2 separate regions of the Homo sapiens genome follow, and region 1 is reported to be linked to region 2. Evidence: microRNA targets listed by miRTarBase, many of them from high-throughput screens and not tested one by one. Region 2 holds a microRNA gene; the other region holds the end of a gene's coding sequence.
Evidence for each region. Region 2 holds the annotated microRNA hsa-miR-3972 (CUGCCAGCCCCGUUCCAGGGCA, at 4,656-4,677, shown strand). A microRNA usually pairs through its seed, bases 2 to 8, with sites in the 3' UTR of a target mRNA and lowers its output. Matches are read on the target gene's strand: a 7mer-m8 pairs with bases 2 to 8, a 7mer-A1 pairs with bases 2 to 7 and ends in A, and an 8mer does both.

Region 1: the mRNA of DNAJA1 is a reported target of hsa-miR-3972. Seed matches in the 3' UTR shown: 7mer-m8 at 2,120-2,126 and 7mer-A1 at 2,477-2,483.

Annotation. Positions count from the first base shown.
Region 1 is chr9:33,036,808-33,046,349 of GRCh38, forward strand. DNAJA1 (DnaJ heat shock protein family (Hsp40) member A1) reads left to right here. Exons shown (of 9, transcript NM_001539.4): 8 at 208-308; 9 at 1,878-3,100. The coding sequence ends at 2,096. SMU1 (SMU1 DNA replication regulator and spliceosomal factor) reads right to left here. Exons shown (of 12, transcript NM_018225.3): 12 at 4,958-9,542. Among named protein-coding and RNA genes, the nearest start is that of DNAJA1, 16 kb to the left of the region's middle. RefSeq lists an enhancer at 7,176-7,677 and a silencer at 7,532-7,851.
Region 2 is chr1:17,273,293-17,282,834 of GRCh38, forward strand. MIR3972 (microRNA 3972) reads left to right here and starts at 4,597; the gene lies at 4,597-4,683. It overlaps PADI3 (peptidyl arginine deiminase 3), which reads left to right. Exons shown (of 16, transcript NM_016233.2): 10 at 48-155; 11 at 1,343-1,494; 12 at 3,227-3,371; 13 at 3,482-3,584; 14 at 7,058-7,137; 15 at 7,379-7,504. RefSeq lists an enhancer at 705-1,206.

The DNA.
Region 1 (9,542 bases), not on the chromosome of region 2:
ATATCCTTCTCTGGGCTTAGATGAAGTTATAAGGTCTTGGCTCTCTTGTCAGCCCTTGGAAAACCCATAAGTGAAAGGTAACAGGATTGCTTTGCCACGTAAGTTTTACTCCTGCCAATGAGCTAGGACAGTGCTCTGTTCTTTATATTCCCTGCCTCATAAAAATGTGACCATACTTAAGGAAGAACTTGGCTTCAATGTTTTTAGGTCAGATTGTCAAGCATGGAGATATCAAGTGTGTACTAAATGAAGGCATGCCAATTTATCGTAGACCATATGAAAAGGGTCGCCTAATCATCGAATTTAAGGTAAGCTGTAATGTACTTTAAGAATACTTGAGAACAATTGGCTTACTAAAATCTGATAAAAAAGTAAAATTTCAGCCAGGTGCAAGTAGCTCATGCCTGTAATCCCCGCATTTTGAGAGGCTGAGGCAGGAGGATCCCTTGAGCCCTGGAGTTTTGAGAACAGCCTGGGCAACATAGTGAAACCCTGTCTCTTTAAAAAAACAAAAAAAAAAAAAAATTAAAATTTCTGAATGCCTCAGAACCTGAAACTTACATTTTTCCACAGCAAGAAATATATGGATCTGGCCACGTGCCACTGGCACACACCTATAATCCCAGTGCTTTGGGAGGCCAAGACAGGTGGATTGCTTGAGCTCAGGAGTTAAAGGCCAGCCTGGGCAACATGGCAAAACCCCATCTCTACAAAAAGTACAAAAATTAGCCAGGCATGGTGGCACACACCTGTAGTCCCAGCTACTCGGGAGGCTGAGGTGGGAGGATTGCTTGAGCCTAGGTGGTCAAGGCTGCAGTGAATCAAGATCGTGTCACTGTACTTCAACCTGGGTGACAGAATGAGACCCTGTCTCAAAAAAAGAAAAAAGAAAATTTACCTAATAACTACTTCTGTCATGTTGAGCATTCTTTGTTAACAAGTTGAGGATGGGGTTTTTTGCATCATTAATTGGATATTTAAAGATAGGTTGTGGGAAGGGTGTGTGGGACAAGTGGGTATTTTACTAATGAAAGGTTGTAACTGGCATCTTAAAGTTGAGAGGTGCTTTATAATAATTGCAGATTTCTTGGCAAAATAGTGTAATGCTTGATTTGTTAATAGGTATAAAGCAATCCAGTCATTTTCCTGAGTCTTAAATTGGCCTGTCACCATAAAAATATTAATTAAAACTTTTTTTTTTTTTTTTCCTTTTTGAGACGGGAGTCTTGTTCTGTCACCCAAGGTGGAGTGCAGTGGTGCGATCCTGGATCACTGTAACCTCCACCTCCTGGGTTCAAGCAGTTCTCCTGCCTCAGCCTCCTGAGTAGCTGGGAATACAGGTGCCCGCCACCACGCTGGGCTTTTTAGTAGAGATGGGGTTTCACCATATTGGCCAGGCTGGTCTCAAACTCTTGACCTCAGGTGATCTGCCCATCTCAGCTTCCCAAAGTGTTGGGATTTGTAATCCCAATTGTATGAGCCACCGCGCCTGGCCTAAAAACATCTTTGGTAAGGAAGAACTACCCTTTTGAGAGTAAGAATAGCTTTGTTTAAATATGTCGTAAGAAGGGTTAGGCTGTTGCAGGATGGGTTTTGGTATTAAAAAGTCAGTTTGCTGGATAGAACAATGGTTGTTAAAGTGCAGTTTTATTTAATACAATCATTTTTAATAAAGCCTGACTTCTGGTCATAATCCTTGAACTCTAGTTCAGAGTGTGCTATGCACTGTGCCTTTTTAGAGCCTGTTCTAACCTGAGATTGGCAGATTCACCTAAATATTACGTGTTTACATGTGTTTTTCTGGGGAAAATGGGTCCATGATACTCTAAGGGAGCTAATGATGAAATCAGATTGAACAGTGAAAGTTTCTTTTGAAGGTAAACTTTCCTGAGAATGGCTTTCTCTCTCCTGATAAACTGTCTTTGCTGGAAAAACTCCTACCCGAGAGGAAGGAAGTGGAAGAGACTGATGAGATGGACCAAGTAGAACTGGTGGACTTTGATCCAAATCAGGAAAGACGGCGCCACTACAATGGAGAAGCATATGAGGATGATGAACATCATCCCAGAGGTGGTGTTCAGTGTCAGACCTCTTAATGGGCCAGTGAATAACACTCACTGCTGGCATTTAATGTGCAGTAGTGAATGAGTGAAGGACTGTAATCATAATATGCTCACTACTTGCTCTTGTTTTTGTTTTAATAAACTATAGTAGTGTTTTAAAAAGTTAAATGAAGAATAAACGCAAATATAAAAGCTCTGATTTTGCCCTGTATGTATGATGACTTCAGTGTGCAAGATGAAGTTTAATACCTGTAAAAACTACAAAGAAGTTCCCCTAGCATTTCTAGGCCAAACCTTGTAATTGACTTCAGCTATGTACGTGGACAAGCTTAGACTGAAATGCTAGGTATATGTATTGGCTTCAGTGTATGACCCTTCATTGTTAAGCTATGAAAGTAAAACTCTGTATTTAACTGGCAATGAGGAAAAAAAAATTTTGTAGAGAAGTGTTGGTCTGTATAGTTCTTTATATTAAGTGGGATTCATTGTAATGCCTCTGCATTTATTCTGTTGCCTCAGCTGTTACTTGAAGATGGCGTAATATATAATTTATCCTGTGGTATCAGTGATAAAAATGATACCTTTCTGTAGGAGGGGTTTATCATAATATGCTGCTTCTTGAAGGCTTGCACTTCCAGAATTGTGTTTCCTTCTGCTGTGCCATTCATATATATATACATATATATATATAATCTTGACCAGTCCTGGTCATTTGCTCCCCTCCTTGTCTGTGGACCATGATAAGCCCAAGTAGTGACTTCAGAGCTGGGTAACAGAAATTAAAGTGAAAAGACCTTTACGTGGAGAATTTGCATGCGTAATATAGGAAGGTGTTCTTTAGGTATGTTACAGGATTACTTTAAACCATTTGACTTTCGCTCCAAAGTTATGTTGGTAGTATAGCAAATTATGATGAATAGCTTTAATTGTATGTTTAAAAGTCTCATATGTTCACATGCTTAAATCTGGGTATCAGAATTTAAGCAATTCTTGAAATGTATTGTCTCCTTAATATACTAATTACAAAGCATCTCCAATGTGTGTCACTACAGGCTTTTTTTTCCCAGATCATCAAATTTTGGCTTTTAACTAAGATACATAGCTTTATTTTAGCTAGTCTGAATGAGTGATACAAAAATACTATTGAACTATAGTTAAATAATATTAAATAGGATGGAGAGTAAAAGTGGAGGACTGGGTAATGAGCCAAGAAGAAGGGGACTTAGAAAACTGCAAACATTGGAGTGAGCATGAGAGAACAAGTTCTCATAAAGAATACAAGTTTAAAAAGGAGAAAAACTTTAAAAAATAAGGTTCCCAAACCATCAGTGTTTGTCAACTTCCTTTTAGTCTGTGCCAGCCACCCACAGCTACCCTAAAGTTGGAGATGTGAAGCAGATGTTCAGGAAAGTATAATTGATCGGTGTTCAAAAAAGTGCTTTGTGACAGATTTCACTTTTCACTGGGTTTATGTACAAATTCTAAAAATCTCTGAACCTGTATTTTAATGCATTTAAGAGCATTGTTTAGGCCAGGCATGGTGGCAGTGGCTCACACCTGTGATCCCAGCACTTTGGGAGGACAAGGCAGGCAGATCACCTGAGGTCAGGAGTTTGAGACCAGCCTGGCCAACTTGGTGAAAACGTGGTGTACTTTACTAAAAGTACAAAAATTAGCCAGGTGTGGTAGCACTCACCTGTAGTCCCAGCTACTCGGGAGGCTGAGGCAGAATTGCTCAAACCCAGTCCGGAGGTTGCAGTGAACCAAGATTGCACCATTGCGCTCCAGCCTGGGTGACAGCAAGACTCCGTCTCAAAAAAAAAAAAAAAAAAAAAAAAGCATTGTTTATAGGACGCTTAAAAATTTTTACAAATCTCACACAAGGTTTTCAGCGTTTGTCAGTCATAAGGGAAATGCACATAAAAACCAGATACCACTTCATACCTAATAGGATAGCTCTAATCCAAAAAATGGAAAATAAGAATATGGAGAAATTGGAACCCTCTGTACTTTGTTGGTGGTAATGTAAAATGTTGCAGTTGCTGTAGAAAAGTCTGGCAGCTGCTTAAAAAGCTAAACATGGAATTACCACATGACCCAGAGCTGGCCCTCCTTTTTGGGTTTCACATCCATGGATTTAGTCAACTTTGGATCAAAAACAATTGGGAAAAATTGTTTCCTGACCATGTACAGACTTCAGCTGTTAAAAGTATAACAGCTGTTTACATAGTACTTACATTGTATTAGGTATTACCAGTAACCTAGAGCTAGATGGCTAAATTACGCAGGATGTGTAGGTTATATGCAAATAACCATCTTGTTTTATATCAGGGACTTGAGTACCCTCGGATTCTGGTATCCATGGAAAGTCCTGGAACCAGTACCCCCATGGATACTGAGGGATGACTATACAAAAGGAATTAAAAACGAATGAAGGCCGGGCGCGGTGGCTCATACCTCTAATCTCAGCACTTTGGGCAGCCTAGGCGGGCTGATCACCTAAGGTCAGGAGTTGAAGACCAGCCTGGCCAACGTGGTGAAACCCCGTCTCCACTAAAAAGACAAAAATTAGCCGGGTGTGGTGGTGGGCGCCTATAATCCCAGCTACTTGGGAGGCTGAGGCAGGAGAAACGCTTGAACCCAGGAGGTGGAGGTTGCAGCGAACCAAGATTGTATCATTGTACTCCAGCCTGGGCGACAAGAGGGAGACTGTCTCAAAAAAAAAAAAAAAAAAAAAAAACTCGTATGGTCAGTGTTTACTGTGCATTCTCAACAGCCCAAAGTGGAAACCTGACTGTCCACCAACAAATGGTTAATGTGTACCTACAAATCTCTCAATTCTCAATATACATGTGTACATACACTGTGAAATACACAGCCATTAAAAGGAATACTTTTTATACTTCCCCCAAATATGAAGCACTTTACTGTTTGATACATGGATGAACCTTTAAAACATGCTAAATGAAATAAGCCAGATAAAAAAGGACAAGTATTGTATAATTTCACTTATATGAACTAAACTTAGACAAATGCATTGAGGCAGAAACAGTACCAAAGGCTGAGGGGAAGGGAAGGAGAAGTTAATTGACAATGTTACAGGGCTTCTGTTTAGGGTGATGACATTTTGGAAATACAATAGTGGTTGCGTAACATCGTAAATAATGCCACTGAATTGCACAATTGTTTAGGAAAATTTGTTACATGTTTTACAATTAAAAATCCTAAGAACACTAAAAGAAAGTCATATTAGGTCGGTTGGTGCAAAAGTAATGTGCCATTACTTTTAATGGCAAAAACCGCAATTACTTTTGCACTAACCTAATAGTTATATCCTGAAGAGGCAGAAACTGATAGGTTTGTCTGTGTAGTTTTTCAGCTTGTATTATTACTACCACTAACAGCCTCTGTTGAACCCTTCATTACTATGTAAGCAGCCATATTTAATTCTCAGAACAATGTAATGAGGGAGAGCCTATGAAAAAACAAAGCCTATGAAACAGAGCCTATGAAAAAACATTAACCAAGGTCATCATCCACAAAAATACAAGTTCCAGCACTAACTCTGCTTTCTCTGTGATGCTTCTCCTGCCCATTCATACTTGTAGGGAATAGGAGTAGAGGCCAATTATGTCGCTTGAGAGTGCTCTTGGAACAGTGGCAAATTTTCTGTACGTGAAATTAGCTTCTCAACTTTTTTGTACGTACGGTACTGGTTCTTAACCTTGGCTACCATTGGAATTACCCGGGAAACATTAAAACACTCATCAGGTCCCACCCTCCAGGGATTCTGTATAACTCGGCTGGGTGTAGCCTAAGCATCAAAATGATTATGCGCAGCCAAGGTTGAAAGCCACCAACACTGACACATGGATTTAATATTAACCACTTGGAACAGAATACCACTGTTAAAATTGCCGTGGAAGGTTAAATAATGGGCAGCCCTTGCTATTCCAAGTTTGGTTTTTTTGTTTTTTGTTTTTGAGACCAAGTCTTGCTCTGTCACCCAGGCTGGAGTGCAGTGGCACAGTCTCAGCTCACTGCAACCTCTGCCTCCCGGGTTCCAGCTATTCTCCTGCCTCAGCCTCCTAGGTAGCTGGGACTACAGGCGTGTGCCACCATGCCCGGCTAATTTTGTATCCTTAGTAGAGACAGGGTGTCACCATGTTGGCCAGGGTGGTCTTGAACTCCTGACCTCGTGATCCACCCACCTCGGCCTCCCAAAGTGCTGGGATTACAGGCTTGAGCCACCGTGCCCGGCCTATTGTAAGTTTTAAACAACCTCAGACCAGGGAACTTCCTCACTTGGACATACACTTCATAGCAATTTCTTCTCTTAAAATAGTGGAAAATGAAGCTGTAAAAGCACAGTGAATGAGAACACTAGCAAGCTATGGCAATTTGAAAAAATGTGATTTTAAGAGTCAGTCTTGCACCTTTATCATTTAAATTTGGTTATCTCAGCATGAAACTTCTGAGACTGACAGCAAGAATTAAAACACCTTTTGTATATGCGGAAACTACCCTGTAGTCTACCTGCTCTCAAATTTGAGCACGCTTGCTGGGCCCCACCACCAATTTCTGATTCTGTAGGTCTGGGATAGGACCTTAGAATGTGTCTATCACGTGACACTTGTAAGAACCACTGTTCTAGCACAAGCCAAAAGAAGTGACAGCAAAGACTGACATCCAGAATCCTCTAATTCAGTTCTCTCTACTCATCTCACTACCTGTGCTCTGCTTAGGTGAATGTGTTTGCAGCATGTGGAGGAACAATCCATGTATTCTTTGTCCCTGCCCAAACCTAAAGATTGAGGAGGAACTGACAGCAATATTGAGAGTGAGGCAAGAGAGAAAAAAAACCTAGCTTCGGAGTCACATCTGGTTTTCAATGCGAGCTTCGTGCAAGTTGGACTGAGTTAGGTGCCTCACGTCTGGAAACCTGTTTCTTCATGTGCATTTGCGCACCCTCATTACATTGTTCTGAGAATTAAATATGGCTGCTTACATAGCAAGGAAGGGCTCAACAGAGGCCGTTAGTGGTAGTAATAATACATGCTGAAAAAAAACAACTGGTGAAGAAGATACTGAATTGTACCTGAGATTTATACCATTTGCTGTTAAAAAAAAAAAAAAAAAAAAAGCCATACTACTCCCAAATACCTCCGCGCAATGTTTTCCAGTCATTAATTCAACAGCAGAATAGGGGATAGGACAAATGTCCTTATGCTCATGGAATTAATTTTAACGCCAGGTAGTTTAGCTTCTATGTTAAGTGCTAGAGAGCAGCATCCGTTAAATCTGGTGGCTGCAGCAGAGCACTTCCCTAGGAACCGACTGCACACGCCCAATTCAGAAGGAAGTGAGCACTGATTCCCGGCAGCCAACTCCCGTTCGCGCAGCCGCTGCCACCGGCCCTTAAGACGATGTGACCGCCAATTTTGTAACAGTGACGTCACCCGACGTCTGCAGGCCCTGACAGTTGGCTCTAGCGGGTGCGCAGTCTCCCTACCCCCGGTAAGGGGCTCTACCGGCCCTGGACCCAAGATGGGACTCCTACCTCCGACCACCCGGAGCAGCGGCGCCCCAGATCCGGCCGTCCGCCCTGCGCGTGCGCGGCCCGACCCCGCCGCGGTCTGGCTGTAAGGGCGCTGGAGGGGAGCTGGGCTGCCCCAGCCTTCAATGCTGGAGGGACGGCCGCGTGGGGCTTCAGAAAGGCTAGGCGCCGAGGAGTGTAAGCAGCGTGTGCCCATTTAAAGACAAAATCAGTGTGTTTTTCAGGTTTGTACGAAATGAAGTTGTAGAAAGATTAACAAGGGTTACCTGGGAAAGGCAGATTTTCAACTTAGCGTTTACATGTTCACCCAGTGCATTATTTTATTTAAAAAGAAGAAAAATATATACTTAACGGCTCCTAATCCAGCTCTCTTTGCCTGGTCTCCCAAGACACCTATCATTTTGCCCAGCACATACCTTGCCGCTGTGCCACACTGGAGTCCCCGGTTAGGTTCCCTGTGCTTAGACCGCCCCCTAGTCCCTCCAGGAAGCCTTTCCCAACCCTTTCGCGTTAACTGCCCGCCTCATCATCACAAAGGTAACTTGAGCTTTTATCAGTTTTAATTACTCCTTTTAATTTGCTCTTCTTCCCTATGTTTAGGCAGAAACGAGTCTTTTTTTAACCATATTCATCACCTGGTGCCAGCAACAGAAGTGTTCCCTAAAAATTCCTAGAATAAACCAACACGTGCTGACTAGATTCTCCATCTTCATAAACGGTGATACAAACTATGCACATCATAACTACCAGCTTCATGAGGTCAAGACTAAATCAAAAATTCTCAAGGACTTTTCTAAAAATTTTTTTAGCATAAACTGTTTCCTCTAACTTAAACTTCTCTTAAGTGAACGTGTCTTTCCACTGGGATGACTGTCTACATGCTCAGGAATCCTGAATTCATGACTATGTTCAACTCCCACGACCATTTTTAAATCATCAAAATGGCAGCAAATGTCATTACCTGGACCAAAAAGCTGCAGGTTTTGTGGCAAATGGGAAATGTGTTATAGAATATGACTGGGAAAGAGGGATTTCTTAGTGCTGCCCAGAATTAATTCAGCAAACACTGAACATTACTACGTGCCACATATAGGATCATACTGCATTTCAGGTCACCATCAAAGGTAAATTACAAGGCTGGGCGCAGTGGCTCATGCCTGTAATCCCAGCACTTTGGGAGGCCAGGGCAGGCGGATCACCTGAGGTCAGGAGTTCAAGACCAGCCTGGCCAACATGGCAAAACCCCCGCTCTACTAAAAATACAAAAATTAGCCAGGCATGCTGGCATGCGCCTGTAGTCCCAGCTACTTGGGAGGCTAAGGCAGGAGAATCGCTTGAACCTGGGAAGTGGAAGTTGCAGTTAGCTGAGATGGCACCACTGCACTCCAGCCTGGGCAACAGAGCAAGACTCCATCTCAGAAAAATAAAATAAATTTTTTAAAAAGGTAAATTACAAGACTGCAAAACTTTTTAAAAAAACCTTCCCCACTAGTTTGTACCTAATAAATGCTAACATTTAAAAGGGGGCACAAAAGGCCTGCAGAAATAAGAACTCACGTTCTTGAAAGTACTGCCTAGCATGGTATCTTCCTCATCATCAGAGGTGCTCTATACATCTTCAGTTGAAACGTGAAACAGACATCCATATGCAAAATATTTTCAAGGGTTTTGTTGGCTTTTACATGTTTTTCTTTAGATAACTGGTAATGATGCACATTACAAAGGAGACTTTTCTAAATCTCAAGTCCTTTGCTAATTTTTCTTTGGAACAACAGCACATTTTCAATGCCAAACCTTCTCCTACAACATACAAAGGGGAGATGCCAAAACTCTGAATTCTTGTAACGGATCCTGCAACTAGTTCTATCCAGAAGATGGAGACAATATTCCCTGGAGTTGACTGAACATGTGAGAAGGCACAG
Region 2 (9,542 bases):
CTGTTGACTGTCACAGCTGTGCGTCTCTCGCCTCTCCTCACTTGCAGGATGAGATGGAGCTGGGCTACGTTCAGGCGCCGCACAAGACCCTCCCGGTGGTCTTTGACTCCCCAAGGAATGGGGAACTGCAGGATTTCCCTTACAAAAGAATCCTGGTGAGTGGTCCCGGCCGCAGCCCACCCCTGAGAGCTGAGAGGCCTTACCCCAGGGGCCACACCGGGGTGTGGGGTACAGAGGGCAGCAGTGGGAACCGTGCTCTTTAGGGATGAGGGTAGGGTTGCCAGATAAAATGCAGGGATGCCCAGTCAAATGTGAATTTCAGACAAGCAACAGGTTAACTTTTTGGTGTAAGTACGTCCCAAATATTGCATGGGATATACTTACACTAAAAAAGTTGTCGTTTATCTAAAATTCAAAGTTAATTGGGCATCCTGTATTTTTATTTACTGAATCTGGCAGCCCTAAATAGGGGAGGCAGGATGGTGCACCTGTTCAGAGCACAAGCTTTAGGGTCAGACCAACCCTGTTCCGTTACTTACATGCTGTGTGATGTTGCGTGAGTTACTACCGCTCTCTGAGCCTCAGTTTCCTCATCAGTAAAAATGACATTTTGGCCCTGGCCTCACAGGGGTTTGTGAAGCATCTCATCATCACAGTACCTGCATGGAGGGAGTGTGTGTGCGCGCACCACTATTAGCTAGTATCATTATTTTAAGAAAAAGGATAACAGGGAAGGTGATGATTGCTAACGAGGACCTCTTGAGAAAACAAGAGTGACTTGCCTGGTGCCGTAAAGAACAAGAGACCCCTCCAACCCCCTCACTGATCACACAGATGCTAGGAGCTCTCTCTCCTGACCCTTGATGTTGTCGAAGTTGCTTCTGAGAGATAGCCCTGGGGAGGTCTCCCCTTCTCTAGAGTTCAAAGACAGAGGCCCAGAGGGCCATCAGCAGCCTCTTGGTTCCCACAATTGGCCACTTGAGCTGCTACTTGCCCTTGGGCTGAACTTGCAGGAAGGCTGTGTAGGTAAGGGGATGGAGTGGCCATGGCCTCAGGCTCCATGTCCGATGGGGAGTGCAGGAGCAACCGGAGCGCCCCCTGCTGTCTTGCCGTGATAAGGCAGCAGGGCCAGAGAGTCCGAGCACTTCCCGACTTTGCCTGCTATGCGTGCATGAAATATTGACTGGGTCAGATCCCCCACCCACCGCCAATGACTCTGTATTTCCACCTGAAGAATGGATGGCCTTTCCCACCCTGTCTTGAAGGAGCTCAAAGCCCAGCAAGTTGGTTCAGGCCCTTCCTGGTACCCTCCACCCCCGCCTGACTTGGTTTCCCTCTCCAGGGTCCAGATTTTGGTTACGTGACTCGGGAACCACGCGACAGGTCTGTGAGTGGCCTGGACTCCTTTGGGAACCTGGAGGTCAGCCCTCCAGTGGTGGCCAATGGGAAAGAGTACCCCCTGGGGAGGATCCTCATTGGGGGCAACCTGCCTGGGTGAGAGAGAGACAGGGAATGGAGTTCCTGGGGTGGAGGCTGAGGGTTGGGGGTGGTGATGATGGTGGAGCAGGGGCCATTGCACTCCTTGAAGAGAGCCAGAAGCAAGGAATGATGAAATTATACTCCCGGATGTGCTGGGGTTGGTGGGTGTTCACCAGACACAGTCCACACTTACCTCGGGGACTCTGAAACCAGAGAGAGCAGAGACCTAAGAGATCATTCAGTCCAACACTTTCATTTTACAAGTGGGCCCAGAGAGGGTAAGTGAGTCACATAGAAAGCAAAGTTATAACTAGACTCAAGTTTTCTGATTCTGAAAATAAATAGATGATACTAGTAACAGTCAATTAATAGTAACAGAAGAAGAGTGGGCATGGTGGTTCATGCCGTAATCCCAGCACTTTGGGAGGCCAAGGCAGGCGGATCATGAGATCAGGAGATCGAGACCATCCTGGCTAACATGGTGAAACTCCGTCTCTACTAAAAAAAAAAAAAAAATTAGCCAGGCGTGGTGGCAGGCGCCTGTAGTCCCAGCTACTCAGGAGGCTGAGGCAGGAGAATGGCATGAACCCAGGAGGTGGAGCTTGCAGTGAGCTGAGATCATGCCACTGCACTCCAGCCTGGGCGACAGAGCGAGACTCCGTCTCAAAAAAAAAAAAAAAAAAAAAAAGTAACAAAGAAAAAGTTTCCATTCCCAACAGTCCTGGGAGAAAATGCATTTAGGTCAAAGCTTGTTCATACTACCATGTAAATGACTAATATAAGATCTTTTCCTGAGAGCAAGAGAAGTGAGGTACAAGACATGCTAAGTGAAATGACAATAACATACAGAGAGAGTAACAAATGATGTGTTGTTCAGTAGTGACACAGGGGTGCTGATGGAAAAGGAATCCTATCATATTGGTTACTTGCTGTGGACTAGACCAAGACATTGAGCTAACCAAATGCAACAAAGCTGTTAGAACAGACTTGGGATCAAATAATGAATGAATCCAGAGTCAAGCTTTGGAAGGGACTACTGCCCTCAAATACATAATCCCATTGAAAGAGGAAGCTGGACCATGCCCTTAGATACATTTTCGTAAAAATTGAACATGGGGGTGAAATCTGTCTCTTGGAGAATAAGAACCTGGTGTGAGGGTGGTTCTGAAGATTTTCCTGGATGGTGGGACCTGGTAGGTCATTGCCCTGGTGTGACTGACCTGTCCTGAGTCTGCCTCATGCAGAACTCACCCTAAGTGGAATTTTAAAATATACGTATCTGGCTGGGTGCAGTGGCTCATCCCTGTAATCCCAGCACTTTGTGAGGCTGAGGCGGGCAGATCACTTGAGGTCAGGAGTTCGAGACCAGCCTGGCCAACATGGTGAAACCCCATCTCTAGTAAAAATACAGAAAAATTAGCCTGGCCTGGTGGTGCACGCCTGTAATCCCAGTTGCTTGGGAGGCTGAGGCAGGAGAATCCCTTGAACCTGGGAGGCGGAAGTTGCAATGAGGCGAGATCACGCCACTGCACTCCAGCCTGAGTGACAGAGTGAGATTCCATCTCAAAAATAAATAAATAAATAAAATGAAATATACATATTTATTACTTTCCTGTTTATAAAAGTAATGCATGTTTTTTTGTTTTTTAAAAATCAGATATTGCAGGAATGCTAAACTCTTGTCATTTTATTTCTGCATGGAGTCTTTTTAGTTAAGCAACTTTTTTTTTAACCTCGTGGGTCCCAGGTCAAGTGGCCGCAGGGTCACCCAGGTGGTGCGGGACTTCCTCCATGCCCAGAAGGTGCAGCCCCCCGTGGAGCTCTTTGTGGACTGGTTGGCCGTGGGCCATGTGGATGAGTTTCTGAGCTTTGTCCCTGCCCCCGATGGGAAGGTAAGAACTTCGTGCATGACGTGTCTTTCCCTGGCATCTGGGGCAAGAACTGAGCTCCAGGGCGCCATGCCAAGGCAGGAGGCTCAGCTGAATCTGTTCTCTGCACGCAGGGCTTCCGGATGCTCCTGGCCAGCCCTGGGGCCTGCTTCAAGCTCTTCCAGGAAAAGCAGAAGTGTGGCCACGGGAGGGCCCTCCTGTTCCAGGGGGTTGTTGGTGGGTAACAGTGCCGTGTCCCTCCTTGCGGCTTGCCTGCCCCTTACCCAAATTAAGACACATCATGGCTTGAGAGGGGGAGGGCAAGTTTTAAAGCAGGGGTGTGTCCCCAAATTCAGGGCTTCTCACTCCTGCCCCTGCACACCTTGCTTCACCAGACACCACTGCCCACAGCTGGGGCCGAGCTGAGGTGGGAAGCGGGGTGATAGAAGGTGGACATGGACTGAGCGGGGACATAGTGGCTTCCCAGGCAGGTGACCAGTGCAGTCACGGCGTGGAGCTTTAATGTTCTGCAGTCACTATCCTGAAATCTCCCTTTTTTTTTTTTCCTTTTTGAGACGGAGTTTCACTCTTGTTGCCCAGGCTGGAGTGCAATGGCGTGATCTCCACTCACCGCAACCTCCGCCTCCCAAGTTCAAGCGATTCTCCTGCCTCAGCCTCCTGAGTAGCTGGGATTACAGGCATGCGCCACCACGCCCGGCTAATTTTGTGTTTTTAGTAGAGACGGGGGTTTCTCCATGTTGGTCAGGCTGGTCTCGAACTCCTGACCTCAGGTGATCAGCCCGCCTCGGCCTCTCAAAGTGCTGGGATTACAGGCGTGAGCCACCACACCTGGCTGCCCTGAAATCTTAATTCTGTTTTGTGAGGTCTGATGGATCAGTGGAGCATCTACGGGGCTTGGAGCCTCTGCTCAGGCACAGTCCTGTCTCCCAGCCTCCCTGCCTCCCTGGCACAGATTCTCTGCTGCCTACTTCTGTGCTCCCTGGAGCCTCAGTGCAAGGCCTCCCCCATCTCTGTCACTGTCCTGAGATGCTGCAGCACTCTGCCCCCAGCAGGAGCCTGGGCATGGGGAGGGCTGGGGTTGGGCACATGTGCCACTCAGCATCTTCATGGCATCAGTCGTCCCTGCCCTGCAAGGGCATTTGGTGGGCAACTTGGGAGGGGTAAGTGTCTCACCCAGGCTTGCTCAGGTACCCAGCACATACCCAGAGGCCACAATACTCTGGAGGTCGCCCATTTGCCTTGGCTTGGGGTGGCAGTCCTGTGGGAATGAGAGATGCCAAACTGGACCTGCCAGCCCCGTTCCAGGGCACAGCATGTGGGTCTCATAGCAGAGGCATGCCCAAGCACAGCCCCCTGGGAGCTAGGCCTCCGCTGTGAGGCCCACAGGGTGGGCCCTGACACCAGCAAGGGACTGTCCAGCCCCATGCAAGTCCCCGGCAAAGCGCAATGTGAAATAGCAAATAAAAACCACCCTGACAAGTCAGGAGAGAGACTCGGGGACAAAGAAACAACTTTATACTGTAGCACTTTTAATGGTACTCTTTTGTCTGCTCTTTAAACAAGGAGCTGGCATTTTCTTTTCTTCTTTTTTGAGACAGGGTCTATCAGCCAGGCTGGAGTGCAGTGACATGATCTCAGCTCACTGCAGCCTCGACCTCCCAGACTTAAGCGAGTCTCCCACCGCAGCCTTGCGAGTAGCTAGGACCACAGGCATGCACCACCACGCCTGGCTAATTTTTTGTATTTTTTGTAGAGATGGAGTCTCACCGTGTTGCCCAGGCTGGTCTTGAACTCCTGAGCTCAAGTGATCTGTCTGTCTTGGCCTCCCAAAGTATGGGATTACAGGTGTGAACTACTGTGTCTGGCCAGGGCCCACTTTTTTTTGTTTTGTTTTTTGTTTTGCACTGGAAGAATTTTGAGAGAGAGAGAGCTGGCTGGACTGGAGTCATCTGGCAAGCTTGCTGGAAGCGTTCTCAAATTCACTCCCTTTCCAGCCCCACTGAGACTGCATGAATCCCAGAGGATCCTCCCTTTCTCAGTGACCCCAGAGGTCCCAGGGCAAAGACCCTTTGACACGCAGGATCATAGATTTTCTTGGTCCCATGGCCTCAGGGAAGGCAGATAGCATCCTAGACCAAACACAGCTCAGAGAGAAAAAAAGCTCCTGTAGAACTTAGACGCCCCCAAGTATAATAATTTCCAAAGTCCCCTTGCTCTCTGTTTGCTAGCGTTAACTTCTTCCAACACAACCCTGGAGCCTTAGCAATAAAATGGAAGAGAAATAGTCTTTCTTGACCCTGTTGCTCCCAAACGCACCCTAACTAGACTCCGGTGAACCTAGAGTAAGTCTTAGAAATCCTTAAATCCAAATTATGTACCAGGCAGGGAGAAATGCCACCTTCATCTTTCCTGGGAGAACTTATGGTGAGCAAGACCCAGGAATGGGTTGAGCAGAGTTATTCCAACCTGCCCAGCTGGGAGGGAGCGTGGGAGAATTCACAGATGGCAGGCCACAAGCAGCCACCCCACCCTCGAGGGCTGACACTCAGGCAGTGACTGTGGCGATTAATTACATAGACACAGAGGCCAGACACAGAGGCCAGAGCACTGATTAGACACCTCAGTGCGCCAGGCCTCACGCTGTGTGCATCACACGTGTTATCTCATTTGATCTCACGAGAGATCAAATGGGATGACTCTCACCCACCTTTATTCCCAAGAATGTGAGGCTCAGAGAGGGGATGTCACTGGCCCAGAGGCCTCAGCAAGATTGCAGTGGAGCTGGGACTGGACCCCAGCTTCCTGCCTTAAACTGGGGTGAAGCGGGCGTTAGACCTGCAGATGGGTCAGGGGAGCCCTCTCCTTTCCCTTGGTCAAGGCTTGAGGCCCTGTGCGAGCCCTGGGCTTGGGTTTGAATCACAAGCCCCCACATATCCTACCTGTGTGACCTTTGGCAAGTCTTCTGACCTCTCTGAGCCTCAGTTTTCTCATCTGTAAAGTGGGGATCATAATGCATACCTTGTGGGGGTCACCGTGAGGGTTAAATGAGATGCTGAACCTGGGCACTCCCCTCGGGGCCTGCTCATGGTAAGCGCTTACTAAGTAGCAGCCATGAGGATTGTGTGCCATTGACTCTAGCCTCCGCTTCCCTGTCCAGTCTCATCTGCATGGGCACACCATCAGGCTGAGAAAATCTGGACCCCTGGGAGGTCCCCATTTCACGCAGTCACCCCCTGAAGGGCAGGATTGGGGCTGGATGGTGTCTGAATCCCAGGACTGGCTGGTTCGCTGCTCAGTGAACCTATAAAACCTGACTGATGGTGGGTGGGTGGGCAGCAACTGACCCAGCTCCCCGCTAAGCCAAAGCAAGAGGATTCCTCATCCAGTGCCCTCGGGCAGTTGTACATTTCCAGTGACAGGCGTTACCACTTCCAGTGAACTCAAATAAAGGTCTCAGTTCATTCCACTGTGGCAACCAGACCCTCCCACTCCTTATACCCCAAGATGTGCACAGTGGCCAAGGCAAGCTCAGACAGGTGGAACCCACCCAAGGCCTGGGAAAGTCAGAGGCTGCTGACTCGGCAAGACCATTAGCTGTGAACTTGGCTCCTGCCTGTCTGCTTCCCTAAGCAGGTGGTCCTCACGTTGGTGCTGTCCCTGTCCTTCTCTTTCATCTCTCTCCTTCACAGATGATGAGCAGGTCAAGACCATCTCCATCAACCAGGTGCTCTCCAATAAAGACCTCATCAACTACAATAAGTTTGTGCAGGTACAAGGGCTGTGGTGTACCTGTGGGCTGTGATTTGGGAGTAGGCGGGGCTGGAGGCAAGGATGGGATACAGACATCTGAGGCTAACTGTTCATGAAAGCTCAGGTTAGAACAGGCCCAGACAGAGGGGTCCCAACACCCTCTTTTGACCCAGAAGAAGTGAGGGGAGCGACAGGATGCCTTGGTGCCCCCAAAACACACTGGCAAGGTGTCCCCAACTCTGGCCCTCCCCTGCCCCCAGAGCTGCATCGACTGGAACCGTGAGGTGCTGAAGCGGGAGCTGGGCCTGGCAGAGTGTGACATCATTGACATCCCACAGCTCTTCAAGACCGAGAGGAAAAAAGCAACGGCCTTCTTCCCTGACTTGGTGAGGGCACTACCCATGACTCCTTTGCCAAATCAGGCTGCAAACCTCTAAGCTCGAGAGAGGAAAAATGTCTGGTCACAGTCATATTTAGGATTGTGGTGGCCAGTGGGGGTGGCAGGGAGAATCAGGGGTCCTATGGTGCTCCTCAGAAGGGCTTCTAGCTGGCTGACCACCATGGTCCCTGTGGAATGCTTGCTGGCCAAGCCCTGGCCCAAGGGGCATCAGGGAAGGGGTCCACTTGACATTTGTGGAGTGAATGAATGATTGCATGAGGTCACGTGTGCAAAGCACATGGCATCAGCTGGGAACCCAGATGCTCATTCTGCTCTCTTCCTCCCAGCTTGTGGCTCTTCATCCATCCCACATGTATTTAGGGTGTCCTGTGGCAGATGCAGAGATGATTAAGAATGCCCCCTGCTCTCAAGGGACTTTCAGTCTAATCGGTTGAGAGGGAAACTCTTCCCTTCTCTGAGGACATGTCCCAGTGATCTATTTTGTAGGATAAGGCGATGTGGCAGTTTGGAGGTGAGACAAAGCACTTCCAGCCTAAGAGGTAGAACTGGAGATCCAGGAAGTCTTCATGGAAGAAGTGGCTTTTGACTGAGCCTTGAGGGCTTTGCCTCTGATGCTTGTAAATCTTTTTTTCTTTTTTTCTTTTTTTTTTTTTGAGACGGAGTCTCACTCTGTTGCCCAGGCTGGAGGGCAGTGGCACAATCTCACTCACTGCAACCTCAGCCTCCAGGGTTCAAGCGATTCTCCTGCCTCAGCCTCCTGAGTAGCTGGGATTGTGGGATTGCAGGCGTGCACCACCACGCCCGGCTAATTTCTGTATTTTTAGTAGAGATGGAGTTTTGCCATGTTGGCCAGGCTGGTCTTGAGCTCCTGACCTCCGGTGATCCACCAGCCTCGGCCTCCCAAAGTGCTGGGATTACAGGCGGAAGCCACCGTGCTTGGCCTGCTTCTAAATCTTGAGCTTGCCTTTGAAACACCTGGACAGGTGGGGCCCCACCCCAGCGGTCCTGATTCAGCAGGTCTAAAGCACGGCCCGAGGCACTGCTGCCGCGCTAACAAACACCCAGGTGGTGCTGATGCTGCCTTTTAGAGGAACACAGTTTGAGTAGCACTGCTATAGGTCACCCAGCTCCCCTCTCCACTCCTCCCCACCTCATCCCCTAAAAGAACTCAATTTGCCCATTGTCAGAGCCTTGTGGGGAACCTGTCCACACCACCATTGCTTCATGCCCCGCTTTTTCCTTCCTCTTTTCAGGCAACATTTTGCCCTCCGCTTGCAAAGCCTCTTTTCACTCCCCTTCCTTCCTGTTCGAGGCTATCTTGTAATTATATATGTGCCCCAAGAAGTTTGTGCAATGATTCAGGTTCTTGTGTTCGCAAGAGACAGAGTCCTACTGAAGCCAGCTTCAGCCAGAGGGAGTCTTAATATAAGGACACCAGAAACCTGAGGGCAGGATAGCTGCAGCAGAGCCTGGAACCCTCTCTGTTTCTGTGTCTACATCATTCATTCTCTCTCTTTCTCTCACCCTCTCCACCTCCTACTTCTTCTCCCTCTTCTTCCAGCTTGGCTTCCTTTGCTTCTCTGTTCCTGGGGACAAAGATGAGTATGGCCATGCACAGAGACACTGACACGGGCAGAGACCAACTAGACGCTCCCATTGTCAGTTTCAAATTCCTGGGAGAGGGACTCTGATTGGTCCATCTTGGACCAGCTGTTCTCCCTGGCCCAATCAGTTATGGCCTAGAAGGTTGGGATTCTGCAGCACAAACATGGCAGCTGCCACAATCCACAATTCCAAATTCACATTAGGGCAGTTTCCAGAGCACGTTGCCAGAGTGAGTTCTGCGGATGCTCCCAAAGGCACCTGGCTAACCGGTTCTTCCCAGCCCCTTTAGCCAGTTACCTTCTCATTGCACAGGAAAGGGTGAGTAGCTATTGACAAGGCTGTCTAAAACACAAACCTAGGTCCTGCAGGTAGAGTAGAGGTGTGGGGTGGGAGCCCAGTGATGAAGTGCTGCTTCCCCT